Linked DNA regions of Homo sapiens: region 1 is linked to region 2. Evidence: fine-mapped expression QTL. A gene starts in region 2. The other region holds a variant in brackets. All regions are shown on one strand. Distances are from middle to middle. Region 1 holds the start of PPDPF (pancreatic progenitor cell differentiation and proliferation factor). Region 2 holds the start of SRMS (src-related kinase lacking C-terminal regulatory tyrosine and N-terminal myristylation sites).

Region 1 (11,581 bases), 26 kb before region 2:
ACCCCTCCACTCTGGAAATCTTTAATATATTTTATTATGCAATTCAACCTTCCATCCAATATACATACTGGACGCCTGCCTCCTGCATGGCTGGCTCTGCCTCAGCCACTGGGACCCAGGGTGAACAGATACACCACCTTCTCCCACAGTGCTTGTGTAACCACCAAGCCAATGTCCTGAGTTACTTCCAACAGTGAAAGGTACAGGGATTAATAAGGAACTTTCGCTGAGCACCTGCCCCGTGCCAGATACTGGTCCAAGCACCTGCAGGAAGCATCTTACCCTCAAGGTGGCCACAGGAGTTAGCTATGCCCGTCTCACGCGCAGGGACACTGAGGAACAGGCAGCCTTGGCTGCTGCCCCCCGGACTTCACCTGCCACATCAGGTGCCGCCGGCATAGCAGGCCTTCATCAAATATTAGTCAGCACTTCTGTTTTCTTCTGCAGGTGGTGACACCATCTAAGAGGCACTGGCCAGAGAGCTGGGCAGCAGCTGCCACCTGGGATGAAGATGGGCAGAGCTGGGCCACCAGGGCCGTGGTGTGAACACACCACTCTCCCTCCAGGGGCCGACCAACGAGCTCCGGGGGTCCAACCCTGGCTCCGGCTTTGGCAGAACTCTCACCTCGCCCCCAGACACCTGTGGGAGGAGCACAGTGCAGGTGGCGACAGCTCCCAGGGGCCGAGCAAGGCTGTGAGCCTCCGCACTAGGGGCCTCTCCCATCTAGTCCTCCCCACACGCTGGGGTTAACGCATTCTTAACATATGTATGTTAACCCAACCATAACAAGGTGCCACCATCGTCCCGTCCACAAGGGAGGAGACAGTGGCTACAGGGTGGCAGGCAGCCCTTACAAGTGGGACTGGAAGCCTTTCCCTCCCGCCCTGTGGGAAGCCTGTGGCCGTCCCCGCCCTCGTCCAGCTGTGCCCTGTCCTCTCCAGCTGACCGTCCCCGTCAATCTCATCCCTGCCAATGATCACATCCTAGCAGCAACCGGGCCTGAACCGGCCTGCTATAGCTTGCGCACAATGCATCTTCCGTCCGCTTAGCTTTTCTGCCCCCATTTCCTACAGCCGGGGAGGCTCGGGTGCAGTGTCTCTCCTCGCTCCTGCTTCCTGACCCAGAGCCCAGACCTGGGACTTCCCAAAAGCCCCCAGACACACCAAGGGCACCGCCGAACCCCTCAGAGCCAAGGGAGAGGAGAGCTAGCGTTCCCTGAGCTCACCTTGCCTGGTGGCACGGGTCCCCTCTGTCTGCGGCCACTGTCATGGGAGAAGCCAGGCTCAGCCACTGGCAAGAGCAGGCAGCCAGCAAGAGGTGGATGTGGGTCCAAGCCCAGGCCACACGGCTCCCAGCAAGAGCCATGGCCAGGGGCCAGTCGGCAGCCCCTCTGCCCGACAAGGATGTGGGCCAGCGTCGTCTGCACTTCAGAGGAGACGAGAACCAGGAGGCGGCCCCCGAGGGCATCCCGCGGGTCCTCACGGAGGCTGCGTTCTCCCACCTTGGCCAGGATGCCCCGGGAACACCATGCAGCGTCTCTGAGGCTTCCTGTGCAGAGGGGCTCACAGAGCCCCCACCGGCCTGGTTTAGTAAATGCAGTTTTTACCTTTTCACTTTAAAGGAAAATGAAAATTCCTCCTTTCAGACGCTCTGTGACTGATGTTGACCGGTGTTGACTGGTGAGGTTGAGAATGAGGTGAGCTGGGTCAGGCCAGCCTAGAGGGAAGCGGGTGACCTGGAAGGCCGTGCTGTCAGGCGTGGTCGGCAGTCGGCCCCACGGCTCCTTCAGGGTGGGCCTGGACCACAGACACCTCACCAGGGTCTCCCGTCCCTGGGCGGCTGCATATGGGTCCAAGCAAGCCACAAAGGCTGTGCCAGCCAAGCCCAACGCAGGCCGCCCCTACAGTCCCTGCCCGGCCCTGCACCCTCCCCACCCCTTCCCAGGTGCTGATCACCAGTACTCACTCTGCACCCCAAACCCCAAACCCCGTCTCAGCGTCTGCCCCTGAGGACCCTCTGAGTGTCAACCCAACTGACCCGTCTGCCTCATCAGTGACCCCTCGGGGCTGCACACCTCTCCCATCGCAGGTCCTGGCACTGCTCTCCGGCACCGAGCTCCCCCTCCCAGGTGGGGCTCAGGCGGTTCCCTGCCCTCCGTCCTTAGACCTCAGCTGAAACCTGAGCTCTCCCCACCACCCGCCCCCGCCAGCCTCTGCACTGCTCCCCACGGGAAGGCCGTTCTCCCTTGGTTTACCGTTCCCTGCGCTTGGCTCGGCCATGTGCACATAGTAGGTGCTTACCACACTCGTGCAATGAACACACAGAGCGGTGCAGGGCCCAGGACAGCGCCTTCCCCACGTGCTCAGGGGGCACAAGGGCGTCCCTCCAAGTCTTGCTCAGGGGCCTCCCAGGGTCCCTGCCCAGCTGTGGGTCCTCACTGAGCACCCGGCGAGGACAGAGTACGGCATCCGTTGGCCTCGATCTCCGGAACAACACGGGCACACGGCCGTCCCAGCCAGCAACGAGAGCCACGAAACAAATCCACCCGGGCTGACTCCCGAAGCCCTCGGACTGTTCCGCCCCACGGACCTCCCGGACCCTCTCTTCCACGGGGAAGACACCGCCCAGCCAGGACCGGGTGTATAAAGAAACGGGATTTCCGTAGGGGCAGGCCGATTTCCCCTGCGGGGCCGAGGGAGGTGTGGGGAGGATTCTGCGCTGGGGGGAGGAGGAGAGGGAGGACGCCTTTCTGCCTGGGAAGGGAAAACGCGCCCCCTCCTGATTGGCATGGCGGGCCGTCCCCCGGGCCCCAGGGCCCTGCCGGGAACGCTCTGGGCTCCCCAAACATGGGGTCTCCGAGCAGTGGGGCCCAGCCTCTGCCTCCGGCGACTGGAGACTCACCTCACCCGCCCAAATCCGCCCCGCTCTCCGACTGGGCCCCGCCTCCCACTGCCCCGCCATCCGCCCACCCTTTCACCGCCCCCTGCGGGCAGCAGGCGCGTCCTGGGGCTGGGCAACCGGGGTGCAGGTTCCGGAGCTGCCAGAGCTGTGAGGGGGACTCGGGAGAGATCCAGGTTCCTCTGGCTGCGAAGTCCCTGGAGGCCGGGCCGGAGGGCTCCGCGCACGTAGCACTTTTTGGCCCGCCCGGCGCCCCCGTCGCCTCCACAAGGGCTGAAGAGGACGGGCGGGCTGGACCAGGCGGGGCTCCGAGACGCGTCCGAGACGGGGGCCTGGGCCCGGGAGAGGGGCGGGGGCTGGGCTCCCGGACCCGGGCGCGGGGCCTTTTAACCCCTGCAGACCCAGGACCGGCCGGGCCGCCCCAAGACGAACGCCGCAGGGCTGGGCTCAGCCCAAGCCAGACGGCGAGAGTCGCACCGAGGTGGAAGCTGGGGGCGCGGCCTCGCCGGGGCCAGGAAAGGGGCGGGGCCGGGTGGGGCCCGGGGAGGAGCCTGTGCGCCCCGCCCTCCGTGACGCGCCGCGGCCCCCGCGCATATAAGTGGGCGCGTCCGCGCGTGCGCACCCCGCGCGCGCCTCTCTGTCGTGGCGCGGCTTCCCGCGGTCTTCTCTGCAAATGGGCTCCGTGGCCTAGCGCCCCCGTCCCCGCCACCCGTGATCGTGCGCCGAGGCCCGCGAGGGGTCGCCGCCCAGGTGAGGGGCGCCGCGCGCGGGTGGGACGAGCAGGCCCGAGGGGCGGGGGGCGAGGGGCGGGGCTGGGCCGGGGGCTCCTCTCCTCTCCGCCTGGCGAGCGCTGGGCTCGGGGTCCCCGGCGGGCTCCTCTCGGGTCGGGCGGGTTGGGACGGCGCCCACCAGGTTCCCGACGTCTGGGCCGGGGCCCCGCGCACAAAGCGCCTTTGTTCCACCCGCTCGGCCGGTTTGGGCTGGTTGGAGCCGCCCGCGCCCCGCGCGGCGAAGGCGGTGCCGGGAGCTGGGGAGCCCCGCCTCGGTAAATAACCCAGCGCGGCGGCTCCACCCGCTGGGGAGCGCCCTTCATGACGGAAGGCCGCTGACCCGAGGGGCTCCTCCACCCCCATGCGCAGATCCCACCAGCCAGCAAGCTAAAGCATGGCGGCCATCCCCTCCAGCGGCTCGCTCGTGGCCACCCACGACTACTACCGGCGTGAGTAGCCCCTGCCCCCCATCCACGCGGATGCTCTGCTGGCGCCAGTGCCGGCCCCGTGCAGGCTGCGGAACCAGCGCTCGGCCTGAAGGCCGGTGGGCTGGGGGGCTCCGCGCCCCGCGTTGCTGACGGGACCTCTCCTCTCCAGGCCGCCTGGGTTCCACTTCCAGCAACAGCTCCTGCAGCAGTACCGAGTGCCCCGGGGAAGCCATTCCCCACCCCCCAGGTGAGTGCAGGATCGCCCCTTTCTCCCCCCGCTCCTCCAGGAGCTGGCAGCATCAAGACCCCACTTCGCTTCTCTCAGGTCTCCCCAAGGCTGACCCGGGTCATTGGTGGGCCAGCTTCTTTTTCGGGAAGTCCACCCTCCCGTTCATGGCCACGGTGTTGGAGTCCGCAGAGCACTCGGAACCTCCCCAGGCCTCCAGCAGCATGACCGCCTGTGGCCTGGCTCGGGACGCCCCGAGGAAGCAGCCCGGCGGTCAGTCCAGCACAGCCAGCGCTGGGCCCCCGTCCTGACCTGAGCGGTTACCACCAGCCCCAGGCCTGCGGAGGCGCTAGTCCACCAGAGCCCCTCCCCGCCCCTCTCCCCACTCCGCATCCCTCGCCCCCCTCCCCACCTCCCACCCCCCACCCTGTAAACTAGGCGGCTGCAGCAAGCAGACCTTCGCATCAACACAGCAGACACCAAAAACCAGTGAGAGCCCCGCTCTCTACCGCCCGGCCCCAGCACTCGCTAGCTTTCCTGACACCTGGAACTGTGCACCTGGCACCAAGCGGAAAATAAACTCCAAGCAGCCAGT[AG/A]CCCCGATGGTGTGTGCCTGAGCTGTGTGGCCCGAGGTTCCATTTGAGTGTGAGAAATGGCTGAATCCCTCCCGACCTCACTGCCTTGTGGGGGCTGGCCCTGCTCCCAGGCCTTTCTGGGCCTCCTCACGCTGTGAGGCTGTTGCTGGGGCTGATAAGGGTGGGGTTCACTGCTGCTTCTGGAGAGCCTTGGACAGCAGGCAGTCCTGGAGCTGGACAAGCAGGACCCAGGGCAGCCACTGAGGTGGGCCCCCGTGCCACCTTTAGCGGGGGGAAAGGGAGCAGGGAGGGCTGGTCCTCTGAGGGATTCAGGCCCCTTACCCGAGGGCCTGCGGGGCGGGGAGTAGCCTCTGGCTGTGAGCTGGGAAGCCCTCACTCTGGAGGGACCTGGTTCCTGCTGGTAGGTGTCTCCCAAGGGCCTCCCATAGGGGTGTTGCCCCAAGACAGGCTGAGGGGTAGGGGCTGCAGGCACCGTGGAGGGGTCTTCCTGCCACAGGCAGCCCAGCTTAAAGTGAGGGTGGCTGCATCATTCTGGCCTGGTATAGGCATGGAGTGTTGGAGTCCGGGAGTGCTGCAGGCTGGCAGGGATGGGGGTCCACACACAGGAGTGCATGGGCTGTGAGCTTAGTAGACTCCTTCATAACCAAGGTGGGTGGTGTCCCCACACCTCTGCCAGGAGCCTACAGGGATTGACTCAGTTCTGTTGAGAGGCAGCTTAGTGAGCAGGTGGGAGTCAGTGAGATAGCTGGAGACTTGATGTGTGGCCAGGGACATGGTGAGAGGAGGGGCCTCCGTGGGGTGGGAAAGGGTGGGGTTCAGTGGTGGGGGAGGGACTCTGGGGAGGGGTGGGGATCAGTGGGTGCTCCCTGCCTGGTACCCTGTTCCACTGCACTATAAATAGCTGTACTAGTTGGTGGGAAGCTGGTGGGAAGGCATCTGGCTTGTGGCCTCTGATGGCTGAGCCTTTGTCCTGTCCACAGGGTGGAGGCAGCCTCACCCAGCCATCCAAGCCGGTGGTCAGTGCTGAGGCTGGGTGGGGGAGCCTCCGATGGACCCAGGAGTGGGAGGCTGCTCCTAATGGCAGTTGAGCCCCCTGCAGCCTTTTGCAGTGTCCAGATGAAGCCCACAGAGACCCTCCTCCATGTACACACAGCTGTGAGGGTAGCAGGAGTTGGTGTTGAAGGGAGAGCCCAGCCACGCTCAGGTCCCCACCACACATGGCCTGGGGGGGCTCCGCCCTTGGCTGAGCTGGAGGGCTTGGGGTCAGGACCAAGGGTGGGTCCACCCTGCTTGGAAAGAAGCTGTCCTGGCTTTTGGAGTCAGCGGGGGAGGGGCACTGCCCGGGAGCTGGTGTCTTGTTGGAAGGGGCAGCTGGGAGTAGGGAGCAGCCGAGCCACAGGCTGCCCGCGGCATCGTCCCCTGCCTCGGGTCAGGGGGCCCCTTGACTGGAGGACCTCACAACCCTGGGGGTGTCCATGGCCTGTTCCTGGGAGCTGCACCCTCATCAGATTCTCTGTAGGGGGAGAAGTCATATCTTTTCCTCACCCATCACAAGCTTCATGGCTGAGACCTGTTAGAAACAAAATGCTTCCTCGGTGCCACAAAGAAATAGCACTCAAACATTAATTTTCTCAGCAAGGCAATTTTTACTTCTATAGAAGGGTGCGACTCGCGGATGGAGCAATGGTGAGAGCGCACCTGGACAAGGGAGGGGAAGGGGTTCTTATTCCTGACACAGGTAGCCTCTACGGCTGTGTCATTCCCCTGTTGGGTGGGGTTGGACTGCACACTCTAAGGTAATTCTGATTGACTATTTTAAAGAGAGCAGGGGTGTGACCCAGAGTGGTGGGGTGAGTAGTTTGGCAGGAAGGACAGGAACAGGTAGCTAAAGATGACTTAGGTCAGAGCAGGTGACCAGGGGCCGGGTGCGATGGCTCACGCCTGTAATCCCAGCACTTTGGGAGGCCGAGGCGGGTGGATCATGAGGTCAGGAGATCGAGACCATCTTGGCAAACGTGGTGAAACCCCGTCTCTACTAAAAATACAAAAAAAATTAGCCAGGCGTGGTGGCGGGCACCTGTAGTCCCAGCTACTCGGGAGGCTGAGGCAGGAGAATGGCAGGAACCCGGGGGGCGGAGCTTGCAGTGAGCGGACATCGCACCACTGCACTCCAGCCTGGGCAACAGAGCGAGACTCCATCTCAAAAAAAAAAAAAAAAAAAAACAGGTACCAGGATGAGTCAGGACGGAGCAGGTGACCAGGGGAACAGATGTGAACTATTGATTAAAACTGGTGGAAAAGGTTGTTTACTGAAACTATGCACGAGTTAAATGGAGAACAAAGAACTGAACATACATGCTGAGTCCTCTAAGAGAAATCTAGAACTCACTGTATCCAACAGACCCTTGAACAAAAGACAGATTAAACTGGGCGCAGTGGCTCACGCCTATATTCCCAACACTTTGGGAGGCTGAGGCAGGTGGATCACTAGAAGCCGGGACTTCAAGTCCAGCTTGGTCAACATGGCAACCAACACGGCAAAACCCTGTTTCTATCAAAAACAAAAAAATTAGCCAGACGTGGCGGTGCATGCCTGGAGTCCCAGCTACTGGGGAGGCTGAGATGGGAGGATCCCCTGAGCCCGGGAGGCGGAGGCTGCGGTGAGCCAAGATTGCGCTACTGCACTCCAGCCTGGGCGTCAGAGAGCAAGACTCTGTCTTAAAAAAAAAAAAGAAAAAGCATACAAACATTTAATGCGAGTTCCATGTGATGTGGGCCCCTTCAAAACAAAGACCAAAGAAATGGTCTATTTCACAGCGGAGCAGGAGTGAGCGGAGGATGGAAGGGTGTGATCAAGGCCCGACTTGACTCTGACATCCCTTTCCTCTGGTTAGGGGGCGGGACACCACGTGAGGGTCTGCAGGGAGAGGGTCTGGGAGTGGCCTTCCTGGGTTTTATGGCCTGCTTCAGGGAAGAAAGGCAGGGAGGTTAGAATGGCCTCAACGGTGAAATATTTATCTTTTTCTTCCTCCCTAATCCCAGAATTCAGAAACTGTTAGTGGGTTTGCATAAGTTCAATGAGAATCTGTTCTTGTAATAGGGCACAATTGAAAACATTGGTTATATTACCAAGGCTTTGACTGGAATGTCCTATTTTCAGATACGACTAAAGGAGTTAGGGTTGACTGCATGGTCCAATAAAGCCCCTTGGAAAAAAGCTGGCCTGGTACCTCACATACGTGGTTCCCTTACAGATGAGTAAAGAATGTCAATTCCTGGCAGGTCCCAGAATCTTAAGATACCTTAGGGACCTCAAGAAGAGAGGAATTCCCCTAAATCTGTACTTATTGCAGGCAAAGTCTGATGGCAAGTCTTTGCGATGGCTTCCTAGCCTCAAGAGGCTTTTAAAAGCCCAATCTCAGATTCCTTATAAAAAGTTCCAGTAGGCCAGGCACAGTGGCTCACACCTGTAATCCCAGCACTTTGGGAGGCCACGGTGGGCAGATCACGAGGTCAGGGGATCGAGACCATCCTGGCTAACACGGTGAAACCCCGTCTCTACTAAAAATAAAAAAATTAGCCGGGCATGGTGGCGGGTGCCTGTAGTCCCAGCTATGCGGGAGGCTGAGGCAGAAGAATGGCATGAACCCGGGAGACGGAGCTTGCAGTGAGCCGAGATCGCGCCACTGCACTCCAGCCTGGGCGACAGAGCAAGACTCCGTCTCAGGAAAAAAAAAAAAAAAAGTTCCAGTAAAGCAAATTTTAAAAGAGCCCACGTGTCCAGGTGTACCTATAATCCCAGCACTTTGGGAGCCTGAGATGGGAGGTTTGCTTGAGCCCAGGAGTTCAGGACTGGCCTGGGCAACATAGTGGGGCTCCCTCTCTACTAAAATACAAATAAATTAGCCAGGTGTGGTGTCACATGCCTGTCGTCCCAGCTACTCTGGAGGGTGGGGCTGGAAGGTGGCTTGAGCCCAGGAGGTCAAGGCAGCAGTGAACCATGATGGTACCACTGCACTCCAGCCTCGGTGACAGGGTGAGGCCCTGTTGGAAAACAAAAATGAGGAAGAACCTATGTGGTTAATCACTATTCTTGTTCCACTTACATAAATAACCACACCAGGTTTAATGAGGCCAAACTTACTCTGCAATCAAATCAATCTTTTATTATCTTTGATAGAAATGTGTTAATTTGAAAACAATCCTACTTTTATTATCTTTGATAGAAATGCGTTAATTTGCAGCCGGTCACGGTGGCTCACACCTGTAATCCCAGCACTTTGGGAAGCCGAGGTGGGCGGATCACCTGAGGTCAGGAGTTCGAGACCAGCCTGGCCAACATGGCAAAACCCTATCTCTACTAAAAATACAAAAATTAGTCGGGCGTGGTAGCAGGCACCTGTAATCCCAGAGACTTGGGAGGCTGAGGCAGGAGAATCACTTGAACCCGAGAGGCAGAGGTTGCAGTGAGCCAATATTGCGCCATTGCACTCCAGCCTGGGCGACAGAGCGAGACTCCATCTCAAAAAAAAAAAGGAAGAAGGAAATTTGTTGGCTGGGTGCGGTGGCTCACACCTGTAATCCCAGCATTTTGGGAGGCCGAGGTGGGTGGATCACCTGAGGTCGGGAGTTCGAGACCAACCTGACCAACGTGAAGAAACCCCATCTCTACTGAAAGTACAAAAATTAGCTGGGCGTGGTGGCGCATGCCTGTAATCCCAGCTACTCGGGAGGCTGAGGCAGGAGAATCACTTGAACCCGGGAGGCAGAGGTTGCCGTGAGCCGAGATCAAGCCATTGCACTCCAGCCTGTGCAATAAGAGCGAAACTCTATCTCAAAAAAAAAAAAAGAAAAAGAAATTTGTTGACTGTAGAGAGAAAAATTATGTTTCAAAATAAAACTCGTGCCCCCACTATTAGACTCTAGCCCGGTTTGCTGTCTGGAGGTTTTGTCGCCCACCTGTGGTCCGGACCGGGTCCTGAACTTCAGTTTCCTCCAATATTTGCCTACAGCTCACCAAACCACTCTTTCCAATTTTTTCTTCCACCATTCCTCATGGAGTCACTGAAAATTAAAACTGCTCTTTTCCCAAAGCCCTGTAAGCTGAAGCTGCCCCACTTGATACAGACTTCAGAGAAATTTCCCCAGCAACTCTCGTACAGACGGCTTTCGTGCCCAGGCTGGGCGCAGCAGCTCAGGCCTGTAGTCCCGAGGCAGGAGGATTGCTAGAGCCCAGGAGTTCGAGACCAGCCTGGGCAACATAGCAAGACCCTGAATCTCCTAAAAAAAAAAAAATTTAAAATTAGCCAGGTGTGGTGGTGCATTCCTGTAGTCCCAACTATTCAGGAGGCTGAGGCGGGAGGATCACTTGAGCCTGGGAATTCAAGGCTGCAATGAGCTGTGGTCACGCCACTGCGCTCCAGCCTGGGTGACAGAGCAAGACCCTGTCTTCAAAAACAAAAACAGAAACAAAAAACGTTTTCTTACATCTGGAAAACAAAATATTAAAGAACCGTAATGCTTCAGACAAAAGTCATTAAACAGTAAACATCCTCGTCAGTTCATTCATTCCCATGTCATTAATTCTTGTTCTGGTTGATCCTGGGACAGAACTTTCATGGACCTGCCAGGTCCCTCCTTCGAGTTCTGGAAATTTGCACCCAATCCAAGGCTATGACCTGAACCAGAAACCTGTGCTCCAGAGCACCTGTCAGAATCCTTCCCAGGAATCTCTTTGAAGAATAAACAATTTGGGACTAGCTGATTGCAAAGCTTTCAGAAAAAATCAAAGTAAGATAATAACTGTGAATGACCGAAGACTTAAGATAGCCATGGCTCAGGATCTGATGAGAGTTTATTATATTCGTGACACGGTTGGCAAGGAAACTTGGTTATTTCTGTGGCATGCAGCATTTTAATGTAATAACCAAAATTATGACTGATAACATTGCACCAGATTTCTAGGAATAGCATGTGAGATAGGATATATATCATAGGATAACGTATCAGATTTCTAGGAATTTTATAGAGTTTCTGCAACATTCATATCAAAACCAAACCCGTAAATAGAACCTCCAGAAGACTTAGTGTGACTTACTATTTCACACGCTTTCCATCTCATGTAGCACATCGGATAAGCCTGATTAGTCTGACATCTGTCTTTCACAAGGCAGAAGACAAATCCTTTTGAGAAATCCTAGTACCTTTCCAGAAACTCCCAAAATTATTTTTCTTTCTTTCTTTTTTTTTTTTTTTTTTTTGAGATGGAGTCTCGCTCTGTCGCCCAGGCTGGAGTGCAGTGGCGCGATCTCGGCTCACTGCAAGCTCCACCTCCCGGGTTCACACCAGTCTGCTGCCTCAGCCTCCCACGTAGCTGGGACTACAGGCGCCCACCCCCACCACCACACCCAGCTAATTTTTTGTATTTTTTAGTAGAGACGGGGTTTCACCGTGTTAGCCAGGATGGTGTCGATCTCCTGACCTCGTGATCCACCTGCCTCAGCCTCCCAAAGTGCTGGGATTACAGGCATGAGCCACCGTGCCCCGCCTATTCTTCTTTTAAACCAAAAAAACTTTCAGGTGAGTCAAAACCAAAACCAATAAGCTTTTTATGACTTAACCATGGATGAAAGAGACACCTTCAAAATCAGGTGCAAAGGAGG
Region 2 (9,578 bases):
GGAATAAGGAAGGAAAGAAGGAAAAGTGAATGAATGAATGAACGAATAAGCAAATGAGTGAAAGAATAAGCTAGTGAACAAATCAGTGAATAAATGAGTGAATTAGTGAGTGACGAATGAACGAGTGAATGAGTGGATGAATGGATGAATGAATGAGTGAATTAGTGAGTGAGGAATGAACGAGTGAATGAGATGAATGGATGAATGAATGAATGAGTGAATTAGTGAGGAATGAATGAACAAGTGAATGAGTGACTGAATGAATGAGTGGGTGAATGACTGAATGAATGAATAAATGGGTGAGTTAGCAAGTGCAGGAGGTGACCAGCATATCTGCTGTTGGGCCCTCAGTGGCGCCGGGTGTGAATCAGGAGCCAGCACTGCCTAGAGACCAACCACCCCAAGGTCAAGGGCCACTGACCTGGTGGGGGACAGAGGCAGGAGGGGCCGCCCCAGGTACCTGACAGTGAGTAGCCCCCGAGGCTGCTCTCGCTGGGCCGGATGAGGAAGGCCCCTGGTTCGTTGGGTGGGGAGAGGAGCAGCTGCTGTGCCTGGGTCCGACTGACCCCGCTAAAGTACCAGCTGCAAACAGCAGGTGCGGCAGTCACCTTGCAGGCCCCTCAGCCAGTGGCCCCACATGCTCTCCTCCGTGTTGCCGGCAGGGCTGAGCCCGGCTGTCCCACCGCCTCAGGGAGAAGGTCCACCCCGTGGACTTTGAGTCCCAGCTCAAGGTCTGCACTGCCTCAGCCCCCAGTGCCGGCCTCATCCTCCTGCTCAGCCCTGAGCATCCTCACGTTGGCCGTGGGCTCTCCGTTAGCCCTGCTGGGCGTGACCTCCAGTTCCCTGTTCATAGTGACCGCCAGCCCCAGCCACAGGTTAACAGTCAGCCCTGGCCATGGGCCATAGGCCTCCAAACTCGGCTTCGCTGAGCCCCTGCACAGACATGGAGCTGACGGCCTGGTGAGCTGCCCGGAAGCACTGCTGGGCTGTCGTGGCTGTACAGGGCCATGGGCATCACCTGGCTGGGCACGGCCCACCTGCCTCAGGCAGTTGGTTAGTGGAGGGGGCCCATGCAAGCTGTGTCCTGAGGAGGCAGCCTAAGCCAGGCTGTGCAGGAGGTCAGGAGGGGCAGCCAGTGGGCGGCTGCAGGGGGGTTGCTGTGCGAACGTTCAAAGCATCCTGCATCCCATGCTGGAGAGTTGTGCCCAGTACAGGACGGCCCTAAGCCCACTGGCGTCTGTTCGCACAGACACCCCCTCGGAAAAGCCAGGTGCAGGTGAGACCTCTCTGAACACGGTGGCAGGGTGGCAGGGAGCTCCCAGGTGCCCACTCCTCAGATGCCCACACACGAGGAGCCCACACCGGGTGTCGGGAGAGGGGCCGGCTGGGTCTCCCCTGTCCAGGTGGGCCGCCCACCAGGTCACATCTACTCATTCCTGGGAGCCGGAGGCATCCTTGGAAGGAAGACAGAAATGCTCCCAGCCCCACCCCGTCTGCATAACTCTGCTGCTGAAGTCCAAGGCGGGGACTCCACACCTGACTCAGCTTCCCACCCTGGAGCCTCCCACTTCCTGGAGCTTCCTGGGACCCGGAGAGGGATGCCTGCCACTCCCCTGCCCCAGGGCACACCCCGTAAGCACCAGGAGGAAGAAGCAGAGTGAGCCGGTGTCAGGGTGGGGCTGAAACCACCTGGGAAGCGGGACTAGGAGAGGACCCGAGGTGGGCCTCAGAGTCAACACAAGATTCGGGGCTGGGGCACGGCCATGCCATCCTGGCAGACTGGGACTGGGCAAGACGGAGGACACAGTCTGGCACCCCTGCCCCGGTGACCTAGGGGGCAATGGGGGCAGCAGGAATAGAAACTGACATGACCAGGGCCGTGGGGCTGGGCTTAAGTTGAAGGGAATGAAGATGGAGACAGGAAGAGGTGTGGGACCAGGGACAGAGAGGCAGCGGCCTGAGGCACTGACTCCATGGACGCTCTGTCCATGGAGCTCCTCCTGCAGCCAGGGCCCCTGCCTTCTGGGGTCTGCTGGCAGGGAGACGCAACCCTCTCACGTGTAAAGGGACTCAGGTCCCTCCCAGCACCGTGGGGTGTGGGGATGAGACACAGGTGTTTCCCCAAAACATCGCCAGCCTCCTCTGAAGCCCACATCAGGGCTTGGGGGTCAGAGGTGAGCCCCTGTGGGATCCTGAGATGCAGAGGATGTGTCTGAGGTCTCTCCCTGGGGCGTGGGGCCAGGTGTCTGGAGCTAATGACACCTGAGTGTGGTTAGTCTTTTAATCTCCAGCCTAGGCAAATAGTCATTAGCTTTGCCTATGGACCGCCCTGCTCCACCACGAGCCCTGCCCTCCAGGAACTGCTGAAGGGGTCTGTCCTCCACACCTGGGGTGACTGTGAGCCCCTTCCCATCACAAAGGCTGCTTGCCCCCCAACCACTGCTCAGGACAAGCGGGGCAGGTGTGGGGTGAGGGCCTGGGGCCCCTCAGAAGGCCCCTTCCTGTGACTCCGGCTTCACCCGCCCATGCAACCCCCAGGACGATGTGTGAGTGCCAAAGGGCCCCCAGGAGGCTGGAAGTGGCCCTGAGCAAGGCTGACCCCGAAGGTCTCCAGGGCTCAGGCCTTGCCCAGCTGGATGCCAGACCAAGGCAGCCGCTCAGAGCAGCCGCACTGGGCATCTGGACTAGGCGCCTCTGCAACCCCTGCTCACCTGCCCTCACCCAGAGCTCCTGGAGCGTGGGCCCCTGTCTCAGCCCCCAGTCCCAGCCCCTGCTCACCTGCCTTCACCCAGAGCTCCTGGAGCGTGGGCCCGTCTCAGCCCCCAGCCCCTGCTCACCTGCCCTCACCCAGAGTTCCTGGAGCATGGGCCCCTGTCTCAGCCCCCAGCCCCCAGCCCCTGCTCACCTGCCGTCACCCAGAGCTCCTGGAGCTCCTGTCATCTGGTGCCTCCCAGCCCCCAGCCCCTGCCCTCCAAGCAGTGACCGATCCATGAACACTGGACTCCCTGTGTGAGGGCGGGAGGGCCTGGCCAGCCAGGCAGGGTCCTGGAGGAACCGCCTGCTGGGTGTCCAGCTGGTGCAGCTGATGCTCCCCCCCACAGGACCTGACCACGCCTGCCGGAGCCTCCTCTCCCTCTCGGCAGCCCACAGCGGACACTGCTGTTTTCCTACCACACCTGCCGGCCCGGGGCCCATCAGCTGTCCCTGAATGAATGCGTGGATGAACGAATGAATGAACAGATAGCCACGGACATGCGATTTCCAACTCAAAATCCTGCCGTTGTTCTGGACTCCCCAGCTGGGGGCGAGGCAGGCTCTGACTCCGAGGCCGAGGTACTCACGGTTGGTCTGAGAGCGTCTCAGGAGAAGCCTTGGCCACGTGGGTGATGGGCACGAGCCCGGCGCTGGGCTGGCCCGAAAGCCTGCGTGCGAAGATGTAGCCGCCCCCCTCTTCGAGGGCACAGAGCCTGTCCCCGCGGCGGACACTCAGCTCCCCGCCACACCGCGCCGTGAAGTCATAGAGCGCAAGGAAGAGCTGAGGGAAGGGGCTGCAAGGCTCGGCGGGGAGCGTGGGCACTGGGTCAGTGTTGGGGTCCAGGGACCCGGGGGTGCCATGGTCCGGCTCGCCGCCCGCCGGCCAGATCTTGTCCCAGAAGAAGGACAGGAAGGCCAGCCGCCTCCTGAGGAACGGCTCCATCCCCCGGGGTCACCACGCTGGGCCCGAGGGCCATGGGAGCCCGCGAGCCCGGAAGAGGAACTGGCAGGGCCGGTGGGACCCGGTGTCCAGCGCTCCCTGCCCTGGCCGTGGGGTGACAGGGGACCCCGGCCCTGCGGTCACTCAGAGGTCCCCTGGATCCAGGAGGCACACGGTTCCCACCGGCGTCCGGGCTGGCGTTGGGGCTGGGTGGGGCGCAGGGCGGACCCCCTGCCTCAGGCACACCGACAGCACCTCCTGTCCTCGACCTCCTTGGCGTCTGGAGTGCACCGTCCCCTCCCCAACCCGACGGCAGAGGGCAGCTTGGGCTGGGGCGGGGGCGGGCTCCAGGAGGGGCCCGAGGAGGGCGGGGTGGGCAGGGCCAGCCTCTCTCCCGCCCTCTGCAAGGCCCAGGCAGGCGGAATGGCTCTGCCCAGTCAGGCCTGGCCCATGCCCAAGGGCACCACAGTCCAACAGCCGCCCGTGCCCACGGAGAAGTGGGGGTTCCACGGAGAAGCGCTGCTGTTCAGCACCTGCAGTGGTTGCCAAGCCTGAGCTGCACTCAGGTGAAAAATTGCCTGCTTATTTAAGTGTTGGCCAGATATTTTAACATCATTAACCCTGCACCAGGTGCCGAGCCTCCGGCCTCTGCAGTAAATTCTGAGGACAGGCGAGTGAGGGGGCTCTCAGCACCCCGGCTTTCATGCAGTAAAACGAGATGCTGATTGCAGGGAGCTCGGCCGCAGGCCAGGCACCCAGATGCCCCATGCTGCCCGATGACCGGCTTCTGAGTCAGTCAATGCCCAGGCCATACCCAAAGGCCACTGCGGGGAAGTGGAGGCTGCGGACGCCTGGCCCCAGTTCAGGGGGATGAGCACACGGAGAAGGGGCGGCGGGTGAGTCCCTGGCTGGGGACCTCCCACCCTCTCCCTGGACAGCGCCAAGCCCCCGCATGCTGAAGCAAACTCTGCCCGCTCAGGTAGGTCCCCAGATCGGGGCAGGACTGGGGGAGCAAATCCCAGCAAAACCCAGCAGCACGGTACAGGGTCCTGAGGCAGGAGGATGGGGTGGTGGCCATCTGCAGTCTCTCTCTCCTCCCACATCCCCTCCGGGTCCTGAGTGGGGTGGGGTGGGGGCCATCTGCAGTCTCTCACTCCTCCCACCTCCCCTCTGGGTCCTGAGGCACGGGGGTGGGGTGAGGCCATCTGCAGTCTCTCACTCCTCCTGCCGGCCTCCCCCAGCAGCCCCTTCCGCACCTGGGTGGCCTTCAGGGAGCCTCACGCCCCTTTCCCACATCTCACACGCATCCATGCCCCCACTTCATGCGTGTGGCTGAATGCATCCCTCCAATAGGCGTGACCAGTGTCCAGCCAATGACAAGCCCCTCGCACCTGCCTGCCCTGGAGTCACAGATGGGCTTCTCAGAAACCTCACGTCTGGGGACTGGTGTGTGCATTGTGGGGTGGCAGTGACACCCGTGGCCTGGCTCTCAGGGCACCCCAGCAGCCAAGCTGTGTCCGGGCTGATAGCCTGGAGCCAGCAGGGGCCCTGGGAGACTGGACATCGCCAGGCTCAGGGCAGGCTCTGCACCAGAGAGGTGCCCTGCTGGGGGTGGTGGGGGGTGTTGAGAAATGTGGAGAATTGTAAATACTACATTGGGGGTGGCCTTCGAGGGGCCCCAGCGCCTTCTCCTCCCGCGCTTCCCCCCGCCGCCCTCTCCTCCCGCCCCCGCCGCCCTCTCCTCCCCCCACCCGCTGCCCGTCTCCTCCCGCCCCCGACGCCGTCTCCTCCCCACAACCCACCCCCGCCGTCTCCTCCCCTCCACTCCCCCCGCCGCCGTCTCCTCCCCACACCCACCGCCGTCTCCTCACGTGCAGGTGAGGCTTTTGCCCACCATTTCTTTTCTTTACTTTTTTTTTGGAAACAGGGTCTCACTCTGTCGCCCAGGCTGGAGTGCAGTGGCAGCCTCGATCTCCTGGGCTCAAGCCGTCCTCCTGCCGGACTACAGGTGTGCGCCACCATGCCCAGATAAATTTTTTATTATTTGTAGAGATGGGCTCTCACTATGTTGCCCAGGCCGGTTTTGAACTCTTGGCCTCAAGCGATCCTCCTGCCTCCCAAAGTGCTGGGACTACAGGTGTGGCTACCAGCTCTCCCAAATCCTCCCTAGGACGTGACTCTTCCCCGCTAGAACGCCAAGGCCGCAGAGCCCCAGGGAGGCCTCCTCAGGCCATGGAAAGCTCCTGTGCCCACCACACCAGGGTCAGATGTTCAGGGCACTGAATGCAGATTCCTCCCAGACACTCCCTGCCCCTTAGAGCCACGGGATCATGGCACAGGACTCAGCACATTCCATGCCCAGCTGGAACCAGAGGCAGGCCTGGCCATCAGGGTTAGGGCCCCATTGGGCCTCTGCCCCGGCGTGTCTCACCCCCACCGCCCCACCTGCCCACAGATCAGCTCCCCACGTCTGCCCCATCTTCCCCCTCCTTGCACCTGCTGCCCTTGCACCGCACACATGCCAGGGTGAGTGTGGTCGGCAGGCAGCCGAGGCCGGCTTTATCCAGCTCCTCCCCGGTGGTCCTCAGAATCCCCGGCCCCGCATGCCCAGCTGCCCTGTCCCGCTGCCCTCCAAGTTGTGCCCGCCCGTCCACCCCTTCCTCACCTCACCCACCAGGCGCAACACAGCCCAGCATAGGGCCCCTGCCAGGTGTCGGTGTCAGCAGCCCCTTCCCTGCCTGCTGTGCCCCCCCCACATGACCTCACCTCCTCCCTCAGCCCTAACCGGGTGGGTGGCACAGAGGGGAGTGAGGAAAGGGGCCTGGGTACAGGATCAGTCTGGACGGGGTCAGGAGTCTGGGGCTTGGCCGGGTGAGGCGGCTCACTCCTGTAATACCAGCATCTGGGGAGGCCAAGCAGGAGGATCGCTTAAGCCCAAGGGTTCAAGACCAGCCTGGGCAACATAGTGAGACCCCCATCTCTATTTTTTTAAAAAAAGAAAAGGCTAGGCACGGTGGCTGACACCAGTAATCCCAGCACTTTGGGAGGCCAAGGCGGGTGCATCACCTGAGGTCAGGAGTTCAAGACCAGCCTGGGCAACATGGTGAAACCCCGTCTCCACTAAAATACAAAAGTTAGTCAGGCATGATGGCGGGCACCTGTAATCCCAGCTACTCGGGAGGCTGAGACGGGAGAATCACTTGAATCTGGGAGACAGTGGTTGCAGTGAGCTGAGATCGTCGCGCCACCGTACTCCAGCCTGGGCGGCTGAGCAAGACTCCATCTCAAAAAAATAAAAATGACCAGGGCTGGAATCCTGCTGTCAGACTCACTGTCCACATGACCTTGGGCATACAGTGCTGAACCTCCCTGTGCCTCAGTTTCCCCATCTGTAAGAGCACTGAGCTTACAATGGCAGTGAGGACACAGACCAGGGGGATGGGGTGCAGGGCCCTTCCTGGTGTTCAGATGGAGGCTTGTGGCAGGAGCTCTGCCACATCAGGCCACCCCCCATCCGGGTTTATGTGTCTGGAGGGCACAGCTCTGAGGGTCTCAGTGGTCAGCGTGCATTCTCTCCCCCAAGACTGGCCCCACTACCCCCAGGCTTCACCATCCTCAGGGCCCAGGGAAGAGAGCTTGTCCCCACCAGGGACAACAGATCCAAAGTGTTCACTGCCCGTGCCCTGGTGGCCACAAACAGGGTTGAGCAAGACTGAGCACAAACTGGCCCCTGGTGCCCAGCAGTGAACAGGAGTGACTGTTGACCCTGCACAGAGGGGACTATGCTGAGCGCAAGAAGCCAGTCCCAAGGCTGCATACTGAAAGCCTGCACTGATAGGACATTCTTGAAATGACCAGACAGAGCCGGAGAGATGAGTGGTTGCAGGGCTAGGGAGAGGTGGGAGGGAGCAGCGTGGCTGTAAAGAACATGTCAGGGTCCCGTGGGGGTGGCACTGCCTTGCGTCTGTATCGACGTCAAGGTCCTGGCGTGATTCTGCACTGCAGTCCTGCAAGATGCTACCACTGGGGATGCTGGATAGAGGGTAACGGGACCTCTGTGTTACTTCTTACAACTGCAGATGAATCTATACTTATCTTAAAAGTAAAAGTTTAACTTTATTATTATTATTATTATTTTCGAGACAGGCCTCTGTCTTATTGCACCCAGGCTGGAGTGCAGTGGCACAATCTCGGCTCACTGCAACCTCCACCTCCTGGGTTCAAGCGATTCTCCTGCCTCAGCCTCCTGAGTAGCTGGGACTACAGGCGCCCACCACCACGTCCAGCTAATTTTTTTTTTTTTTTTGAGACAGAGTCTCGCTCTGTCGCCCAGGCTGGAGTGCAGTGGCGTGATCTCGGCTCACTGCAAGCTCCACCTTCCAGGTTCACGCCATTCTCCTGCCTCAGTCTCCCGAGTAGCTGGGACTACAGGCGCCTGCCACCACTCCCAGCTAGTGTTTTGTATTTTTAGTAGAGACGGGGTTTCACCATGGTCTCGATCACGTCCAGCTAATTTTTGTATTGTTAGTAGAGACTGGGTCTTACTATGTTGGCCAGGCTGGTCTTGAACTCCTGACCTCAGGTGATCTGCTTGCCTCAGCCTCCCGAAGTGCTGGGATTATAGGCGTGAGCCACTGCGCCCAGCCATTATTATTCTTTTTAGAGACACAGGGTCTCCCTCTGTCACCCAGGCTGGAGTGCAGTGGCACCATCTTGGCTCACTGCAGCCTCATCCTCCCAGGCTCAGGTGATCCTCCGGCCTCAGCTTTCCAAGTAGCTGAGACCACAGGTGCACACCACCACACCCAGCTAATTTTTCAAATTATTTGTAGAGACAGGGGTCTCCCTGTGTTGCCGAGGCTGGTCTCAAACTTCTGGCCTCAAGGGATCCTCTCACCTTGGCCTCTCAAAGTGCTGAGGTTATGGGCCTGCGCCACCGAGCCTGGCCAAAAGTTTAACTTTAAAAAATTAGATTAGAAATCAGAAATTGAAAGAAAGGGGGTAGGGTGGAGCCCAGGAGAGGGGAGACATCCAGGACCTGCCTGGCCCCAAAAGAGAAGGGGAGGCTGCTCTGCCCCCACCCCGCTTCTCCGTCAGTGGGCTGCAGGGCCGGGGGTAAGGGGTCTAACTCCTACTGCTTCCCAACCCTCCGCGTCAGACAGCACCCCCTTCTCCAAACAACCCCGGCTTTGTCCCCTGGAGCCCTAAATAACAATAACAATAGCTGGCATTTATTGAGTTCCAGCCCAGGCAGGGAGGGCAGGGCAGAAACAGCACCCAACAGGACTGGGTGCAAGGCTCACACCTGTAATCCGGAAGGATCAGAAAGACCCAGGTGGGAGGATCACTTGAGCCCCGGGGGTGAAGACTGCCGCATGGGTGACAGAGCAAGACGCTATCTCAAAAAAAAAACCACCCACATCCACCCACTTCCTGCCAGGCCTAACCCCTGGGGCCTCCATGCACCAAGGGAAAGCTCTTCCAGGGTGGGGTCACCGGGAGGAGGGGGGAGGCTCAAGTTACAGAACAGCCTGGTAGGGGCTCAAAGACGCCCATCCTGGAAGAGGCCCCAGCACTGACCTCCGTGGGGGTGGAGATGAGGAGGATGGAAAGGGTGTCTTCCTCCAGCATCTTCCTGAAGGTGAAGGAGGGGCACCTTGGGGTGTCTAAGATTGTGACCCCAGGAGACCCCCAGCTAGCTGGGGTGTGCTGTGGGGGAACGGGGGGATCCCAGAGGCCCTGAGCCCAACTGAACAGATACAGACGGGACCAGATGGCCTCAGAGCTCCCCTGCGGGGCTCCCTGGAGCTATGGAGACCCCATTTATCCAGAGTCAGGTCGGTGCCTGAGCTTGGGCAGCCCCAGGTGGAAGGAGCCCATGGTG

Evidence for each region.
Region 1: its variant is fine-mapped to the expression of SRMS in tibial nerve (GTEx, PIP above 0.99). The same link has a PIP of 0.9 or more in cerebellum.

Annotation. Positions count from the first base shown.
Region 1 is chr20:63,517,246-63,528,826 of GRCh38, forward strand. It overlaps PPDPF (pancreatic progenitor cell differentiation and proliferation factor), which reads left to right and starts at 3,520. Exons shown (of 4, transcript NM_024299.4): 1 at 3,520-3,649; 2 at 4,039-4,118; 3 at 4,267-4,344; 4 at 4,423-4,961. The coding sequence starts at 4,064. The coding sequence ends at 4,634. It overlaps LOC102723814 (a long non-coding RNA gene), which reads right to left and starts at 3,428. Exons shown (of 2, transcript XR_430332.4): 1 at 1,227-3,428; 2 at 13-640. PTK6 (protein tyrosine kinase 6) reads right to left here. Exons shown (of 8, transcript NM_005975.4): 8 at 10,756-11,581. RefSeq lists enhancers at 899-1,776, 1,777-2,653, 2,654-3,530 and silencers at 2,803-3,052, 3,113-3,662, 3,773-3,972. The variant AG/A (reference allele first, on the strand shown) is at 4,919.
Region 2 is chr20:63,543,767-63,553,344 of GRCh38, forward strand. SRMS (src-related kinase lacking C-terminal regulatory tyrosine and N-terminal myristylation sites) reads right to left here and starts at 3,983. Exons shown (of 8, transcript NM_080823.4): 1 at 3,342-3,983; 2 at 461-582. The coding sequence starts at 3,697. It also overlaps a transcript of FNDC11 not described here. RefSeq lists enhancers at 330-883, 3,056-3,697, 9,205-9,294 and a silencer at 9,575-9,578.